Homo sapiens: one gene and its partner. The protein of the gene in region 1 interacts with the protein of each later gene in a biochemical or structural test. Each region holds a gene or a part of one and is shown on either strand. Other genes may lie near its edges.

Evidence for each region. The genes of interacting proteins can lie anywhere in the genome.
Region 2: the proteins of MAGI2 (region 1) and CGN interact in a test that uses a peptide from one of them, tested with the Homo sapiens proteins (one large-scale study listed by IntAct).

Annotation. Positions count from the first base shown.
Region 1 is NC_000007.14:78,016,487-78,019,697, forward strand, and holds the end of MAGI2 (membrane-associated guanylate kinase, WW and PDZ domain-containing protein 2), read right to left. Parts: coding exon 2,829-3,211; 3' UTR 569-2,828; downstream 1-568. UniProt on the Homo sapiens protein: Seems to act as a scaffold molecule at synaptic junctions by assembling neurotransmitter receptors and cell adhesion proteins. Plays a role in nerve growth factor (NGF)-induced recruitment of RAPGEF2 to late endosomes and neurite outgrowth.
Region 2 is NC_000001.11:151,535,251-151,539,004, reverse strand, and holds the end of CGN (cingulin), read right to left. Parts: intron 3,406-3,754; coding exon 3,322-3,405; intron 3,226-3,321; coding exon 3,107-3,225; intron 2,769-3,106; coding exon 2,660-2,768; intron 2,276-2,659; coding exon 2,112-2,275; intron 1,801-2,111; coding exon 1,659-1,800; 3' UTR 313-1,658; downstream 1-312. UniProt on the Homo sapiens protein: Probably plays a role in the formation and regulation of the tight junction (TJ) paracellular permeability barrier.

The DNA of each region.
Region 1 (3,211 bases):
ATTAGCGTTGAACTGTTCCTTCCGATCGTCAACTCCTCGATGGCAGGGTTGTAATCACCCAAGGGCCAAGCAGAACTCTCCCTTCCTACCACAGGCATCGCAATACATGACAAAAGCTATATTCAACCATTCATTTTGGACCAGTTCACTGCTGCTTGCTATGTTGGCTTCTGCATGAACTCCTTGGGATTTTGCATGAGAAAATTTCAGAATTAAAAGGAAAAAATGTGATGGAATTTATTACAGATGGATACTTTAAATCCTTTTTGAAAAAAGGTAAAGTATCGATCAATGTAGCAAGCAACAGAAATATACAGCCAATTCATGAATGATGTAGTAACCTGACAAGCAAATATCAACAAGACTGAGAAAACTGTTTACTTAGGCCAAAAAAGCCAATGATCTTTCCCATGTAATGCCACTGCTTTTAGATTCAAGTTTCAAAAAAGTCCTATTTGGGGCATTAAAACTTATACTTCCAAAAATAAAAAAAGTCGATGAAAACTGCAGTTTTGAAAAACTAAGTTAACCCCCAGTAATAATCTATTTCAAATTAACACACAGCCTATATAGTTGGAAAAAGAAAAGATTTTTGGATATATATTTTATTTGACAGTGTTTTAGAATATCATACAGTAAACAAGATTTCTGTAAAAGTTAATTTATCCATAGTGGTACGTTTCATAAAAATAGTTGCTCACTTACAGTCTTTCTGTGACTATTAATACATGGAATTATATTTATAGAGATACAGCTGTACAGGGTAAATTCACAGCTAACACTACACAAATATTATTTGGAATGGGATTTAGATGATGTGCTGTCTTCACAGGTTATGGATTACAGCCGCATAAAGCAATTACTGCACAAGTAGTAGCTGTGAACTGTGCAAACTAGAGTTTATGCCAGTGTAATCTCAATTTTTTTTTCCTTTTGTAATACATGGAAAATAAAGTCAGAGGATACAGTACCAGGACGTGCAGCTACACTACAGAAGCATTGTCCAAAACCAGATTCAATAAATTAATGGCAAACTATACTGGATTTCTAGTCCAGGGGAGAAAGACTAATTGAGATTAAACCAAAAGCATTATAAACTGCTACAAGTGTTTGTGCTTTTGTTTACGATGAATGGGTTTCATTTTTGGAAATTGCTTTTACAAGCTGCAAGATCCTTCACTTGAGGCTTTCAGCCTTATTCTCCTCCTGTCAAACAACTAAACTACTCCGATGTTTGATGAAAATTAAACTGCTACTCAGGATACTGCAATTACAAGGAGAGGGAATGATCAGCCCAGGGAGGCTATTACGTGTGACCTTTGAGATGGACCTGATCGCCCCTTTTACTTTTTAGACTACAAGTGCAGGGAGGTGGAGCTTATTTGCATTTGAACTCCTGTAAAGAGTAAGAATATGGAAAGGATGAAGCCTCATTCATTCGGGCATATTAAAAAGAAATTGCCTTCAGAAACACTTTGCCTTTTAATATGTGTAGCTACAGTAAGTACCAATGGCTAATTAATTGAAGCTAACATTTTACAAAGAAATGCTAAAACAGCAGGGAAGAAAGGCAAGACTTAGAATTTTACTAGGAGGTCAATCATAGATCCATGAAGATAAACATCTAGAAGTTGCTAACAAAATAAAGTGGCAAGGAATACAAGACGAAAGAAAACTAATGGAAACAAAAGGACAAAGGGTAAGGAAAGAAGGATAAGCAGAAAGGAATGCTAAAAAGACTCACGTTCTTTAATGAAAATAAATTGATTGTAATTTTTTAATATTATAATCTGAGAAATATAAGACAAATACTCTGCCTCTGCTCTGTCAAAGTGCAAATGAAGTCATGGAGACAGGGTTTAAAATAAGACAATAAAATAAGTGAAATCACATTGCTGACAAAGAAGCTATCCATCTCTGCTAGCCTGGGACGACAGAAAAGCCTCTTCATAAAGGAACTGCAGCGTTGCCTATCTTGATTAAACAAATTGTGGTCCTTCAATTATAAAATTCATATTTTAGAGAAAAACCAATTAAGATCTATGAGCTAAACTGCAAAATTCTGACTTATGGCAAACTGTTCCCTAGGATACAATTTTTAAAACCTTTTTTTTCTACCACTGAAAATGTACAGAAATATGATTTGATCACAGAAAGGGCAATAAAAATGGCATCACACCAAGAAACTCACTAGATTTCTAAGTCATCCTGCAGGAGGCAGGGAACGCTGCTGCTAACACCGAGGATGGATGCCAAGGGTGAGCCATGGAAACATGTCATGGGTGAACGGTTCCGAATGTGTCAAAGAAACCCTTTAACCCCTGTCTAGATATGTCGAGAACAATTTATTTACAACGCTTTAGATCAATTAAAAGATATAATCTTGTCTCAGTTTCAGCTTGCTCCGTGCAGTTTGATTTTTAAGGCGATATTCCAGTTTGTGATTGCTCTTAACTTTGTCCTGTTTCTTGATATAAAGTTTGGATGACATCCAAGTCCTTCATGCAGTGGGGAGGAATATTTTTTTTTCTTAAACTAAAGCTACACTGCACTGTCTCTCTGTGATGTTCTTCACGTTATTTTGGTTCTTCCATAGCTGCCAAAGCCCCCACAAGGGAACCGGGGGCTTTAGGATCAGTTTAGGTCTGCGCGTTGATGCGATGCCGCCCAAGCACACCGGACACGTGGGACTTCACGTCGATGCTCCCAGGCCTTGGTGCCTCGTGGATCTATGCGTGTGACAGTGAAAATAAATTAAAACGCCGTGAGACGGAACCTAAGAAGAACTGCCTGCGCCGGGGCGGGCGGGTTGGCCGTGGCCGCGCGGCTCATCTGCTGGCGGCCGAGGCGCCGGGTTTGAGGACGCTGGGCAGCTTGTCAGAACCCGGCACCTTCCAGGGCCCCGGCGCGACGGCGGCCTTGCGCGCCGGGGCGCCCCCCGGGGGTCGCGGGCCCGGCCGGGGACCCGCGCGCGCACCCGCCCTGCCCTCGGCCTCCAGCGCGCCGCTGCCGCCGCCGCCCGGGCCGGCAAACGCCGGCGCAGCCCCCGGGCCTTCGCGCCGGCAGAGCTCGGAGCCCGCCGCCGCACGGGGCGCCTCCTTCCCGCCCGCCCGCGCCGCGTCCGCCGCGTCTGCCGCCGCGAGCCCGGGCGCCCTGGCCTCCGAGGCGGGCCTGCCGGCCTCGGGCCGCCCCTGGCCGCCGGGCGCCTCCT
Region 2 (3,754 bases), on another chromosome or scaffold:
GCAGTGAGCTGAGATCATGCCATTACACTCCAGCCTGGGTGACAGAGTGAGACTCCGTCTCAAAAAAAAAAAAAAAAAAAAGGCATTTACTGTCCTTGTTCTTCCCAGAAGGTTGTTCAGGAGAGAAGAGAATGGGGCTGCTATAAACATCTCCAGGTTTCGTAGGTCCCATCTGCTCTGTTCTAAAGGGCCTCTGAAAAGTCAGGTGAAGAAAACTCCAGCTTCGGCTCCTAAGCTGTACAGTTAATATGACTTCATAAAATCTGGACCTCCAAATATGCCAAGAAAAAGAATGAGAAGACAAACCAAGGATTTCAATATAAATGTGTAATTTTAATATTTAATTTAAAATAAAACCAAGGCTGGATTGGATTGGGAAAGAACGTTTGATTTGCAGAAGAATATAGGAATTTTTTTAATCACGACATTACAAGTCATTTGTGAAAACAGCCTTCCTCCTGCCACCGGCTCCCTATACAACCTGCTTAGGAAATATGGAGGTGAATCATCCCCCTTACCTCTTCCCTACCAGGGCTTGGTTCTCCCCAAAATCCAAAGGAGAAATAAATGTCTTCCGTTGCCTCTTCCCATTTTTACAGTCAGCTTCTAACCCCTTGCAAAGCCCTGAATCAGAGCCAAGCACCTCAGAAAATGAGGGTCCCTTGGTTCTCTTATTGAAGTTGGGCACATGTGGTCAGAGAAGCCCCAAGGAAGGCCACAGGGACTGACACCTTTACTTTTGGAATTTGTGCAGCCAGTTGTCAGGGCTCCCAGGTGCAACCACCTTATAACCATATCCACAGTCACAGAGGAGGGAGAGGAGGAAGGATGAAAACCCTGAGCAGGACCAGACCCCCGCCACTTTATCATGACCCTACCAAAGTCCCTCTCCCAGGGGTCATTGGCAGAGAAACCCCAACAGCTCTCTCAATCAATCACTGGGGCAGCAGGGAAGGCTGAGGGCCCTGGCTGGGGAAAAGCTGGTCTTTGGAGAGGTATGAATGTGCAGATATAAAAAGCAAGAAGAGCATCCTTATCTCCTTGCCTTGGCTAAGGCACTGACAGGAAAAATGCAAGGTAGGAATGGCAAAGAGGGGAAAGGAAGAAGACAAAAATATAGGAACTGGAGGGGTATGGGGACTACCACATGGGCCCCATACTTGTGCAAAGAAATGGGTAGAGCCATGCCTGCATGTCTGTTACCCATAACATTCCCCTCACCCTGCTCCAGAGTGGAAGGAAAATGAGTTGCAGGAATCCAGGGAGCACAATAACATAGGGTATTTCCCTGAGCCTTAGGGTTAAGGGCTAAAGAATAAAGCTTTATACACATGGCAATTTCTATCCCTTCCTATCCTTCTCAGTCCCCATCAGCCTAATGCTGACCATCCTTCCACTATAAGAGAGATGAGGGAGGTGTCGGCACTTGAGGAAAAGGCTCAGTTGGCTTGAAATGTCCACTCCTACAGTGGAAAGTCCATCTATCAGCTTATTGCTGATGATTTTTTTTTTTTATCACCATCACTCTGACCCCTCCCTGTCTTAGGTCTGAATAATTGGGTCACCCATAGGAATGCAGAACCCAGGGTGGGCAGAGCAGAGCAGCACTTGCTGGGATAGGCCTCGAGCCTGGTTTCTGAGTCCTTGAGGACCACGAGCTAACAGGAGCTGGTCTGTAGGTTGCTCTCCGTAAGCAGTGATGCAATGGACGAGGGATCGTAGACACTGTCGAATTCCTCATCTGAGCTCAGCCCTTCGTTTTTGAGAGCTGACTCAGCAGCTGAGCGGGAAGCTTTGCGCCTGACTCAGAGAGAAGAATAATGGTTGGGGAGGGGAAAATAGAAATATTAAGACAGCCACCCTTTTTGTACAAAGGAAACCCCAATTCTTCTAAGGCCTAAAGTTTATTCACAAAATCCCCAACTAATCAGATTTGGGGAGGTACAGGATGGTGGCTGAGATACTAATAAATAAATATACTGGCTTCCAACCAGAAACAAGTGACTACACAGTACCATGTTAGAGATTCTCCTCCTTATCCAGCACAGGAGAGACCATTCCCTCCCTGCTCTAGTGTCCCTATGGAGCAAGGGCAAAAGGGTAGCCCATACCAGGAGTCCTTCTCCAGAGACTTGATCCGGGCCTGGAGCTGTTCATTGACCTCATGCTGCTCCTCCACCTCACGCTGGGCCTTCTTCCTCAGGCCGTCCAGTCGCTCAATTTCCTCTTCTGCTTCATCCACCTGACGCTTCAAAGCCTTCACCCTCAGGCTTAGCTGGGCAGGATACCAAGTCCACACATCTGAATAGCATCTACTACCATGGCCTGGGACCCTCCCCCATAACAATCTTGACAAGGTATAATTGCCGCTGGAAAAATGTGGCCTTGGGCAAGTTCCTTAACCTCACATGGTTGTCTTAGGGATTAAATGTATTAACACATGTGTAATACTTACAGAACCTAGCACATCATAAGCACTCAATATATACGCTTACCATGACTTCTCTAGTCTAGTCTTTTCAATCTAATCTCTGTCCTTATACAAGGAAAGTCTAAGTTTGGAGGACCTATAGGAGATAAGGGCCTCCCTTGGCTTTCAGGAAAACATATAATATATACCTGCCCCAGGTTGCTTGGCTCCAGGGTGCCATGTCCTCACCTGGTCTTTCTGGTCATTGACATGCTGCCGCTCGTCTTCAATCTGGATGGATAGTTCTTTAACTTTCCGCTCCAGTTTTCGATTGGTAGACTGCAGAACTGTCTTCTCCCTAAGGTGAGGTAGAAGAATGTCTATGAGTGTCCCCATTTCTAAGGGAATCCTAACTTGGCCCCCTACTGTCCCCAAGGACTCCTCTCAGCCATGAGCTCCACCATTAGACTGGGCAGGATCCAGGGCAGATTCAAAGAATGAGGGAGAGTGACGTCATTCACATTTCAGAATTTCTGCAACACTCTTTGCTCTCTATCAGGAGAAAGTGTTCCCTAAAGATCAGGCCAGGCTGGCCATATCTGAGGTGGAAGATGGAGGGAGCCACAGAGGAGAAAAGCCAAGAGGGAGGGAGGAAGAAAAGGAGGGAGGAAGGGAGGAAGGATAGGCTTATGTCACCTCTCTTCAGCCTGTAGCCGCTCCTGCAACAACTGATTCTGGGACTCAAGCTGAGAGAGGCTGGCACTAGGCTTCTGGAAGCCTTCTGAGCTGGCCAACCGGGTCTTCAGGTCCTTGTTCTGAGAGGGACAGGAAGCCTCCACAGTTAGCACTCCACTGGCCATTTTACTCACCTCCTGGGGTCCATCCCTAAGAATCCTCCCCTCCCCCATCACCTGTCTCTCCAAGGAGATTTTGTCACACTCCAGGTCCTGCCGAGCAGACCTTTCCTGCATGAGCTCTGTCCTCAGCTGATCCACCTAGTGGGGATGGGTGAGAGGACCAGACTTGGGGAGGGCTAAGGATGAACCAGCAAGCTGAACAAAGTGAGGCTGAGTCATGGGAGGATGGTCTCTGAACCCTGAATCCAAAAATTCCCAGGCAACTAAAAAATCACAGCCTATTCAAATGGGAGGGGCCAGAGAATGCAAACAGAGCCTCCTTCGTCCCTCCAGGAACTAGTATCCCTTGTAAACCAAAGAAGCCCCAATTCAGGTCAGAGAACAGCCCAGGCCACCAGGATCCCTTCCTCCATGCAAATCATTGGCTTCTTTCCACCCAAGGAAACTGGCCAACCTTTCCCAAAGCAGACAAAACCCTGAAGGAGAC